Linked DNA regions of Homo sapiens. The protein of the gene in region 1 purifies or fractionates together with the protein of each later gene. This does not show direct contact. Each region holds a gene or a part of one and is shown in the gene's direction. Other genes may lie near its edges. The genes, in order: RASGRP3, MID1 and ACTR3.

The links.
Region 2: the proteins of RASGRP3 (region 1) and MID1 purify together in Homo sapiens (affinity purification with western blotting; one study listed by BioGRID). This does not show direct contact.
Region 3: the proteins of RASGRP3 (region 1) and ACTR3 purify together in Homo sapiens (affinity purification with western blotting; one study listed by BioGRID). This does not show direct contact.

Annotation. Positions count from the first base shown.
Region 1 is NC_000002.12:33,524,999-33,528,655, forward strand, and holds part of RASGRP3 (ras guanyl-releasing protein 3), read left to right. Parts: intron 1-2,138; coding exon 2,139-2,414; intron 2,415-3,657. UniProt on the Homo sapiens protein: Guanine nucleotide exchange factor (GEF) for Ras and Rap1.
Region 2 is NC_000023.11:10,452,962-10,456,618, reverse strand, and holds part of MID1 (E3 ubiquitin-protein ligase Midline-1), read left to right. Parts: intron 1-1,541; coding exon 1,542-1,749; intron 1,750-3,657. UniProt on the Homo sapiens protein: Has E3 ubiquitin ligase activity towards IGBP1, promoting its monoubiquitination, which results in deprotection of the catalytic subunit of protein phosphatase PP2A, and its subsequent degradation by polyubiquitination.
Region 3 is NC_000002.12:113,927,994-113,931,650, forward strand, and holds part of ACTR3 (actin-related protein 3), read left to right. Parts: intron 1-3,307; coding exon 3,308-3,403; intron 3,404-3,657. UniProt on the Homo sapiens protein: ATP-binding component of the Arp2/3 complex, a multiprotein complex that mediates actin polymerization upon stimulation by nucleation-promoting factor (NPF).

The DNA of each region.
Region 1 (3,657 bases):
TGAACCTGGGAGGCAGAGCTTGCAGTGAGCCGAGATCACCCCACTGCACTCCAACCTGGGCGATAGAGCGAGACTCCATCTCAAAAAAAAAAAAACCAAAAAAAAAAAAAAAAACTCAACATATTGTAGTGGTAAATATTCAACAGGTATCTATTTGGTCCTACTATGTGATAGGCATTGTGATACACAAGGTAAATAAGACAGAAATAGTTCCTACCCTACCTCCTGAAATAAAGTCATTGAATGACTATTCATAACACTGTGTTGGGCACATCAGAAGATAGAAAGGGGAAGACATAGGCCTTGTATAGAAATCCTCAGATTTATAACTGAATTGTCATGAATATATATATATATATTAGAAACAGTGATCATTTTCCAAACTGAGCGTTTCTGCCACATTTATTTTCATGACATGATAGTTGTTTTTCTTCTTGAGCAAAAAGGAGCATTTCATCCTTATGAAAAGATTCTCATATAAGAGTGCACTTTGCTACTTCAATAAGGACACTTTTAGCTGTGAGTTTAAAAGAAAAAGAAAAAAACTTCTACAGCAATTAAACAATAAGCAAATGTATCGTCCATCAGGCGTGGTGGCTCACACCTGTAATCTCAGCACTTTGGGAGGTGGAGGTGGGAGGATTGCTTGAAGCCAGGAGTTCGACACCAGCCTGGGTAACATAGCTAGATCCTGTCTCTACAAAAAAAAAAAAAAAAAAAAAAAAAAAACTAGCCAGGTGTGGCAGTGTGTGCCTGTAGTCCCAGCTATTTGGGAGGCTGAGGTGGAATGATCACTTGAGCCCAGGAGTTTGAGGCTGCAGTGAGCCAGGATCATACCACTGCACTCCAGCCTGGGGGACATACCTGGAAGTCCAGAGACAGAGCAGGCACGGTCTGATCAGACCTCTGACTCAGGTGCTCCGCCCGCCTCTGAATATCGGAGAGTTTTGTTTTTTTGTTTGTTTCATCAAACTGTTTCTCTCCTAATTGGGCTGTATGTAGCAACCGAAAAATTACGTTCCCTTGTTCATGAAAGTTGAAGATAGGGAAGACTACTCACTTCAACTCTTCACCCATAGAATTAAAGACCTTTTGAGCCAACTCAGGTCTTAGGTCCATCCCTGGACCAATAACAGTTGCCAGAGTAATACAATGTACTGATTGGCTTAACCCTGAGTTCCTGAACTAATCACAAACTAGAAGGATGCAATTACTCTGATGATAAATCAAAACCCATTCCTGGTTCTGGAAATGGAAACAGACTCTGTCTGAGTCACAAGGGCTGCTTTGGAGAGAGCAGACTAATCAAAATTGGGGTCTACTAGAAAGGTCTGGTTGCTGTGAAGCAACCAACGATAACTTGTCCATATAAACAACAGGAAGTAAGCCACAGAAGTACCGTTGTTTGACCTCAAGCTCTGTACTCATTCCAAGTGTAATGGAACTTATTAGGTAATAAGTGTTTCATTTTCTTTTAGCTTTGTACCAGATCTCAAGTAAAAAGCAAAAACAAATTTTAAATGTTGTGAAGAATAAGAATCTGATAGAAGTTTATAGAGGCTTGGAGAACTACCAGTGCATCTTTTAAAATTATGTATCGGAACTTCTCTTACTTACAGAGAAAGAAACTGAGGCCCAAAAAAGTGAAGTGACTTGCTCAAGGTCACCCTTCTAGTTAGGCAGAATATAGAACCACAGCTATCTCACACCGCATTGCAACTTTCTCTACCCCATACTGTCCCAAATTAACCTCGAGTAATATCTGGAATGCAACTTTCTTGGAACAAATAACAATTTTAATATTCGACATGCTTGAATTTGCGGACAGTAATATTTTCATAAATTTCCAAACACTTAAGTATACATGATGCCATTTAATATCCCAACATCCCTAGTAGGTAGGCAGACATGTAGGCTATTTCCATTTTATAGCAAAATGGAACAGGCTGCTCAATGCATAGCCAGGCCTAGTACTTTTTCTAACTTTCTTTTTCCTGATTCATATTTCCCTGCAGCAACATTGGTGCAAGTGATACTTTTCTCAGTAGCTGAGGAATTTCCTAGCCACACATTGCAGGGCCCGGGGGTGTGCAGGAGGGAAAGTTGTTTGAAAATTCTACTTTTCCATCTGTTCCCAGAACTGGAATGAAATGACAGAGTTGGTCTCCTCCAACGGCAATTACTGCAATTACCGCAAGGCCTTTGCCGACTGCGATGGCTTCAAAATCCCCATCCTTGGAGTACACTTGAAAGACTTGATAGCTGTCCATGTCATTTTCCCAGACTGGACAGAGGAGAACAAAGTGAACATTGTGAAAATGCACCAGCTCTCCGTTACCCTGAGTGAACTAGTCTCCCTGCAGAATGCCTCTCACCACTTAGAACCCAACATGGATTTGATCAACCTGCTCACGGTGAGTTCCAAGGAGCCAAGTTTGGGCTCAATAATTCTTCTGCACCTTTCTTTCCAGGAGACACAGGAAGATGTGTGCCAGCAATTCATTCTGGGGGAAAATTGGTTTCAGAGTCAATAGATGAGAGGAAATCTCATAGAACAAGGGAAAAGGAGCCCTGATTAATATTTTCCATAACCAGCAAATCTTGGGGCAAAGAAATCTACCTTTGTTCGGAGGGGCCCAGTCTCTGCCATATGACTCCACTTCTGGAGTTCTTAGGCTCCTCCAGACTGTGCCTCAGCCCTCACTCTCCTTCACCACATTCATCCAACTTATCACATCCTTCTGTATGTCCTCCAGTCATCTGCTCCTCTTTATCCTCACTGCACTGCTTTGGCTGAAGCCTGGAGTAATGCAAGGACCTTATCTGTGATCCCCCTGTTCCCATTATGAACCTCCCAAACCTCCAGGATGTAGTTTACAGTCTGGCATTCGAGGTTCTTGAAGACTCAGTCTCCAACCTTCTTTGCCATCACCCTATCCCACATTTTACCAGCCTTTGAGAAATATTGAACTTCTTATACTTTCCACCCCATGAAATGCTGTCTTCTGCTTCCTGGCCTTTGGACTTGCTTGGAGAATCCCATCCCAACCCATCCATGTGGCAAGTTCAATTTCAAAAGCCTGTCTTTCTGGAGCATTCTCTCTCCCCCTCCATAGCAGTCATGCATCTGTCACATCACCCTGGCACTTTATATTTTCCTTAACTATAGGAGGTATCACTCTTTATTCGATTTTTATCTGTTTATCTGCCTTACATATCATATGCCTAGCACCTCTCACAGTTCCTGGCATATTTGGGAACTCAATAAATGAACTGCATGCTGTATTTAGGAATGATGTGGCTTAGACAAAAGAAGTTCACCTACCACTCATAGTTTTTTGGCATTTGTGGCACACATGTTTAGCTGGTCTCTGCATCCTAGAACTTTTAGACACAACGGTGTATAGAAGAGAACATTTCCCACTGGCTGCTGCTTTGTGGGAAGAAGAGGCATAACAAAATTCACTCACCCTTCCTTAAACAAAAGTAGAGGTGCAACTTCCCTGTTTGGGTTTATAACACTGTAGCATCTGAAACTCAGCTGCAATACTGAATTAACTGTTTTCCTTGTATGGCTGTGGAAAATGAAACCAATAACTCCTCTTAATTTCTGAGAGCCTAAATCCCCTAGGTCTGCTGCATTGGAATAGGAGTGTG
Region 2 (3,657 bases), on another chromosome or scaffold:
GCAATCGAGCTGCCTTGGCCTCTCAAAGTGCAGGCATTACAGGCATGAGCCACCAGCCCAGCCTAAGCTTTTCTTTGATATGTACAGAAATAGATTTCTAAAACAAAAGCCAGCTAACTATAGCTCAAGGGCCAAATCTGGCTGCCTGATTTTGTAAATAAAGTTTTATTAGCATATAGCCACACCCATTCATTTACCTATTGTCCTGTCCGTGGCTGCCCCCTCACTATAGCAGAAGAGTTGAATAGTCACAAAAGAGACCACATGGCCTGGCCTGCATAGCCAAAAATATTTACTGTCAGGCCCTTTGCAGAAAAAGTATGCTGGTCCGTGACCTAAAAAGAAAGGATTTTAGAGGTGCTGGTGTTGTGTTGTGTTTGTATCCAAAAGGCAACTGGAAATCCTTTGGCCTACCCACATGTGACAACACACACTGTCCTATACTCACTGGGTCAGTTTCTCGCCCAGCATCGTGTATTGCCACAGTTGAATTTACTAGACCTTTTCCTGTGATTGAGAGCTGTATACTGGGCAGAAGGAACCTGCCAACTGCAACAGTGACTGTGGAGTTTGGACACCATGGCATTTGTATCAGGTTGCAATGCATTTCCTGCCTTTAAACGCCTTGTACCCAATGCAGTGTTGAATGACAGGCAGTACTCCAAACCAATATTGAATTGTCAAAGAAGAAGTAACAACTATGACAAAATGTCCAGGTGTGACTCTGCCAAGATTTTTTTAATACTTAAATCTTTAAGACACAAATGTGAGTAATGAAATAGAGAAGGCCTTATTATATATAAATAATTTCATGAGTAGAAAACCCAGGCATTGCTATCACATTTTTTCCTAATTTTGTGGCCTGAAAATTGTATTCTCATCCTAAATTCCTAAGAGTAATGCTTTAATTTTTAATAATCTCAGAATAATATAAACCTCTAGAATATTCTATATGTTAAGACCCAAGATCTTGATTTGTTTGGTTTCTGGTCTGAAGTCTATTGAGCATGAATGCATCTTATGCTGGATAGAACACTGCAGTGGTTGAAAATGGAGTCTTCATTCATTCCTCCTTTTCAGGATGCTATCCAGCCAGTATGTACCTGTGCTGCTTGTATACACCTGGAATCCGTGAAGCTAGCTCACCCTATGTTTTCTGGCTAAGCCTTATCCATGCTGTTGTTGAATAGTTGGCATGCCACCACTGGATCCCTATCTTAGAACTGGTAGACTGAAAGCTTATGAAGACAGGAACATGTTCTTTTTCACTCTTACTGTGTACTGTACTATACACAGAGTTGCTGCTCTCTATTGTCTTTTGAATATTATGAAAACTTTGCAAGCAAATGTCTTTGAAAGTTGCTTATAATGTTTAAATTACTATTAAAATATAAGATACCACTTTGTGATAGGAGGCATGACTCAGGGAGGGCTGGCTTGTTCCTGTCTTTTAAACCTGATTTTGAAAATATGCTATTGGTTATGATAAAATAAACAATCCTCTTCCTCTTCCTTTTTCTGTTTTGTGAATTTGTTTTCAGGCCAACCATTTAAACTGGATCCCAAATCTGCTCATCGAAAACTGAAGGTGTCCCATGATAACTTGACAGTAGAACGTGATGAGTCATCATCCAAGAAGAGTCACACACCTGAACGCTTCACCAGCCAGGGGAGCTATGGAGTAGCTGGAAATGTGTTTATTGATAGTGGCCGGCATTATTGGGAAGTGGTCATAAGTGGAAGCACATGGTAAGCAACTTATTTCTATTGTCCTGCAGTTATAAAAAGGCACATCTCATTCTGTACTTAGAGAGTCAACCCATACTGTAATGCATCTTAAAGAATAAAATGCAGAAAAGTTGTATTAGTCAGCTCTTGCTAGGATAATACTGCATAACAAACACCCCCAAACTCAGCAGATTCAAACAACAACCATATATTACTAATACCCACACCTGTGGGTTCTCTGTTCAAGATTATAGAGCTCTGATCATTGGATGAGCTATACCATGTTAACACTGCTCTTTCATGCCATGAAACATGGGTTGGCAAACCACAGCCCATGAGCCAAACCTGGCCTGCTACCTGGTTTTGTAAATAAAGTTTTATGGGAATACAGCCAGGTCCATTTTTTTACATATAGTCCATGGCTGCCTTTCAGCCACAACAGCAGAATCGAGTAGTTAAGAGAGAATCATATGGTCTACGAAGCCAAAAATATTTACTTACTTTCTGGTCCTTTCCAGAAAAAGTTTGCCATTCCCTACTTTTAAACATCACTCTTCATCATTACACAAAACTAATTTCTGTTGCCTTGTATGTTTTATGGTTCTAGACTGGACCAATTAGTGCAAATAGCTAAGGGTTGAATGGTGGGGGTGAAGCAGTGATCATAGGCTGGGAATAATTTCAAAAGGCCTGTTAGATCCAGCCCAGTGACTTTAGCCCACTGAGTTCTCTAAGAATAAGGGCAAAGGTCAGGACACAATTACATTGGAATTAGTTAACCTCACAAAGTTAACCTTGCCTAATCCACAGCCACAACTGCACCCCTTTGACCGTCTGTCTCACAAATGCCTGCTTGCTATTGATCAAAAAGGGAGCTATTTTATTTTTATTTAACAAGCCCTCATATGGTACAAGTATGTGCCAGGCACTGGTCTAAGCATTTTACAGATGTCAACTCATTTATTCAGCCTTACAGCCCTACAAAGGTAGGTGCTAATATTATCCACTTTACTGATGAGGTGACTGAGGTATATGCTGAAGATCACAGGGTTACAAAGCTCACAGGTGGCAGAGTCAGTAAGTCTGCAGTCAAGGGTCAGGCTCTTAACCAGCAGTCCACAAACATTATCTGTAAAGGGCCAGAGATTCAATATTTCTGGTTTTGCATGCCAAATGATTTTTGTCACTAATACTCGACTCTTCTGTTGTAGTGGGAAAGCAGCCACAGACAACACCTACACAAATGGACATGGCTGCGTTCCAATAAAACTTCATTTATAAAAACAGGCAGAGGGCCAGAGTTGGCCCCTGGGTAGTAGTTTGCTGTTCCCCGCTCTTAACCACCATGGTATGCTGCTATTCACAAAAGGGTGGTATATTTTTGAAATGCTATAATTACTCTCTAGGGTTTATGACAGTGTACGTAATGAGTGATAGCTGAATCCTTGCTTTAAAAAATAAAATCAACATTCAAAATTGCATAGCCTGAAGATGGTGAGTATAACAGTGTTTCTTTCAATATAAGCATGATAAAACACTTATTTATATATAAAAAAACCTTTCAATTCAAACCTATGCAAATAATGTGACATGGCTGAGTCCTTTATATTGTAGGTAGAAATTAGCCAAAAATCTAAGAAGTGAATTGTAAGCTTCCCATCTCTCCCAATAATGGTACATACTATATTGGCTGAGCGAGTAGGTTTTCCTTTGTTGCTATCCTCATAATTCTCTTTGCCTAGAAGAGTTTTCTGTTCCAACATCCTGCCAGAGGATGGAGGACAAATCCTTCACCCCACTAGGCTCTGGGCTAGATTGGCATTTGCAATTTTTAGCTGCAGTGGGGCAAAATTAAAGCACAAAGGAAAACACAATGGATGCAGGTACAAAAAAAGCAAATGTTTCTAGTTAATTAATGTGCTGTATTAA
Region 3 (3,657 bases), about 80 Mb from region 1:
AGTAATCTTTTAACATGTTTCTTTTATTTAACATTTTTTTTTTATTTCTTCTGTCTTTAAGAATATTATACATTATTTACCAACTTCCTAATAGGAAAAATGAGAATTTCCCTTTTTACCTTTTCTCTCCCTCAACACAAAATACCTATCCTTTCCCACTCCTCGCATTGTAGTTACATCACAATTTTTGGTTAAATCAATATTCTGTGTCTTTCGGTGATTGTGATGGACTATAAAGTTGAAAGAACCATACTATGGACACTCATACACCCACAATCTAGATTCGATGATTAACCTTAACATTTGGCTATAATTGCTTCATGACGTCTATCCATCTTTCACTTCATTTTAGTTTTTAAATCACTTCAAAGTGAGTTGCAAATGGGAGTCATTTGACCCCTAAATACTTTAGCACGTATTTCATCAACTAGAGCTATCATTTGTGTATGGTTATTCTTTTCATATAAAATTTACATATCATAAAATCACCGGTCTGCACCATTCAGTGGATTTTGACCAGGGTTTGGCAAACTTTCTAAGGGAGCAGATAGCAAATATTTTTGGCTTTGCAGGGGTTATAGTCCCTGAGGAAACTTAATGAGAACTTTTTATACAATGGTCCCTGTCACAGCTACTCAGCTGTGCTGTTGTAGCATGTTAGCAGCCATAGACAATACTTAAATTCATAGGTATGTCTGTGTTCCAATAAATTTTTTTTTTTTACCAAAACAGGTGGTGGGCTGTATTTGACCTGCAGGATGCATGATGTGATTTGTCCAATCTTTGTCAGTTACATACATCTGTGTAACCTAAACTCTTACCAAGATATAGAGAAATTACTATCAGCGTGGAAAGTTTTCTCATGCCCTTTTGTAATTAATCTCTGCCCCCGTGCCCTAGTGACAACCACTGTTTCTTTTTCATCTGAGATTAGCTTTGCCCATGTTTGAGTGTCAAATAATGGAATCATGCAATATGTGCATTTTGGTGAAACACTTTTACTTAGCATAATCTGGAGATTGAATTATGTTGCATATACTGGTGATTTGTTGCTTTTTGTTGCTGGGTAGTATTCCATTGTATAAATTTGCCTCACTTTATCCATTTTCCTGTTGATGAATACCTGGGCTATTTTTGTTTTTTTTTTGTTTTTGTTTTTGTTTTTTTAAGACAGGGTTTTGCTCTGTTGCTCAGGCTGGAATGCAGTGGATCAATCATGGCTCATTGCAGTGTTGACCTCCCAGCTCAAACAGTTCTCCCAGCTCAGATTCCTGAGTAGCTAGGACACACAGGCCCGGGCCACCACACCTGGGTAATGTGTTCTGGTTTAGAGATGGAGTCTCACTTTGTCACCCAGGCTGGTCTTGAACTCCTGGGCTCCAAGTGATCCTCCCGCCATGGCCTCTCAAAGTGCTGCCACCATGCCTGGCTTAGTTCTAGTTTTTGGTTATAATAAAATAATTTGACCATTGTGAACCTTCTTCTACAAGACTTTTTGTGGACATATGTTTTCATTTCTCTTGTCTAAATACGTAAGTATGGAATTGCAGCGTCATAGGGTAGGTACCTGATTGGTTTTTTAGGGAAACTCATGGGAACTTTTCCCAAGATGGTGAACCTTTTTGCACACCCCCCAGTGATGCATTAGTAATCTGCTTGCTCTATTCAAGATTTGGCTTATCAATCTTTTATACTTTTTTTTTGAGACAGTCTTGCTCTGTCACCCAGGCTGGAGTGCAGTGGTGTGATCTTGGCTCACTGAAACCTCCCCGCCTCCCAGGTTTAAGGGATTCTTGTGCCTCAGCCTCCTGAGTAGCTGGGATTACAGGCATGCACCACCACACCTGGCTAACTTTTGTAATTTTAGTAGAGACAGGATTTTGCCATGTTGGCCAGGCTGGTCTTGAACTTCTAGTCTCAAGTAATCTGCCCACCTCGGCCTCCCAAAGTGCTGGGATTATAGATGTGAGCCACTGCGCTGCTAGCTTGTCAGTCTTTAAAATTTTAGCCGTTCTGGTGGGTGTGTACGATTTTTCATTTGCTTTTAATTTTAATTTTCATTTTCTGATAATTATGTTGAGCAGTCTTTCATGTACGATTGTTATTATTAGCTATTTGTATATTTTCCTTTGTGGGGTCCTCTGATTATCTTTTATGTAGATTTTTTTTCTTGGAGTTTATAATTTCACTGCCTTGGTTTTTAGTTTACTTAATTTTGTATGTATTCATCAGTAAATTATCTCCAGACTTTTAAACATAGCTCCAGAACTCTTCTAAAGAAGTTTAAACACCACAGGGAGTTTAGCTTATAAAGGTTTTATGTAAGGTAACAGTATACTTAGTTGTTTTGCTTTATATTTCTTTTGAAATAATAATTTTAAAAATATTTAATTTTTAATGGATTCAAGTTTTATCACTTTTTCCCTTTGTGATTTGTACTTCAGAAATTTAAGGAGTTATTCCTACCTTAAGGTCAAAAAGAGAATTCTGTGTCTTTTTTAAATTTAAAAATTTTTCTTTTACATTTAAGTATTTGAGATACCTATTAGATTGCCAGTCAGACTCACAAGAATCAGAGGTCTTACCCAGTGTTAATCTTTAAAAATTGAAACAGTTTAAGTGATCATGAGGCATAGGTGAAATATGAAGTCCAAGACTGCCAGATCTCTGAGTCCTTCCTTGCCTCTTTAGAGTGTGTTCTGTCCCAGACTTAACCTGTGAGGTTTCTAAGTGATGTATACAGTCACATAAACAGAAGAGTGCTCTGCAAACATCTTGATTCTATGCTCTTAACAGGTAAATTAATATAACATTTTTCAGAAAGCTGTACCATTAGATCTGTAGAATCTCGGCTTGTTTACTGTAATCCTATATACTTCGGGGACATTCATCTAAAAGCATTACTTAGATGAGGGCTCTCCCACTGGCAAATACCATTGATGTTTTTTCTGGAGGTTTGTCATTACCATATTTAAAGGATGATTTGACTGGACCACCTTTTCCCTACCTCCAACCCTCTCTCTCCCTGCTTCATTTCTTTTTAATGTTTAATCTGTATAAGTGGTATGATATAGGCATTCAGGGTATTTTTTTTTTAAAATGTGAATTACCATACTGTTTTCATATATGTATGGATGTTTGAATTCTCTATAGTTTTCCTTTGATCTCTGTGTCTGTCTTTCTACTTGTAAATTTAATGCATTTTAAATAAAATGTTTGAAATAAATTACTTCTCATTTAAAAATTGTCAAGAAAGTTATCAAAATAATCTGATATTATCTATTTAAAATGTTATTTATTTCAATAGACTGAACCTCCATTGAATACTCCAGAAAACAGGGAATATACTGCTGAAATAATGTTTGAGTCCTTCAATGTTCCAGGCTTGTACATTGCTGTGCAGGTAAGCAAGTTCATACTTTCTAAGTTTGATTCTTACATTTTAACCTAGTTTAATTTGCTGCCTAAAATACGTACTTTTTTTTTTTTTCTGCAAAGGTTTAAACATAATGTCAAAGCATGTTATACTTCTCTCCTGAATTGTTAATTTAGAAGTAATATTATGGGAAGTGGAGATATTTAGTCAGGAAAAGAGAAGTGTTAAAAAAGTAAGTTAGTGGTGTTTGGGTATTTCAAGGGCTTTCATAGGACAGAAAT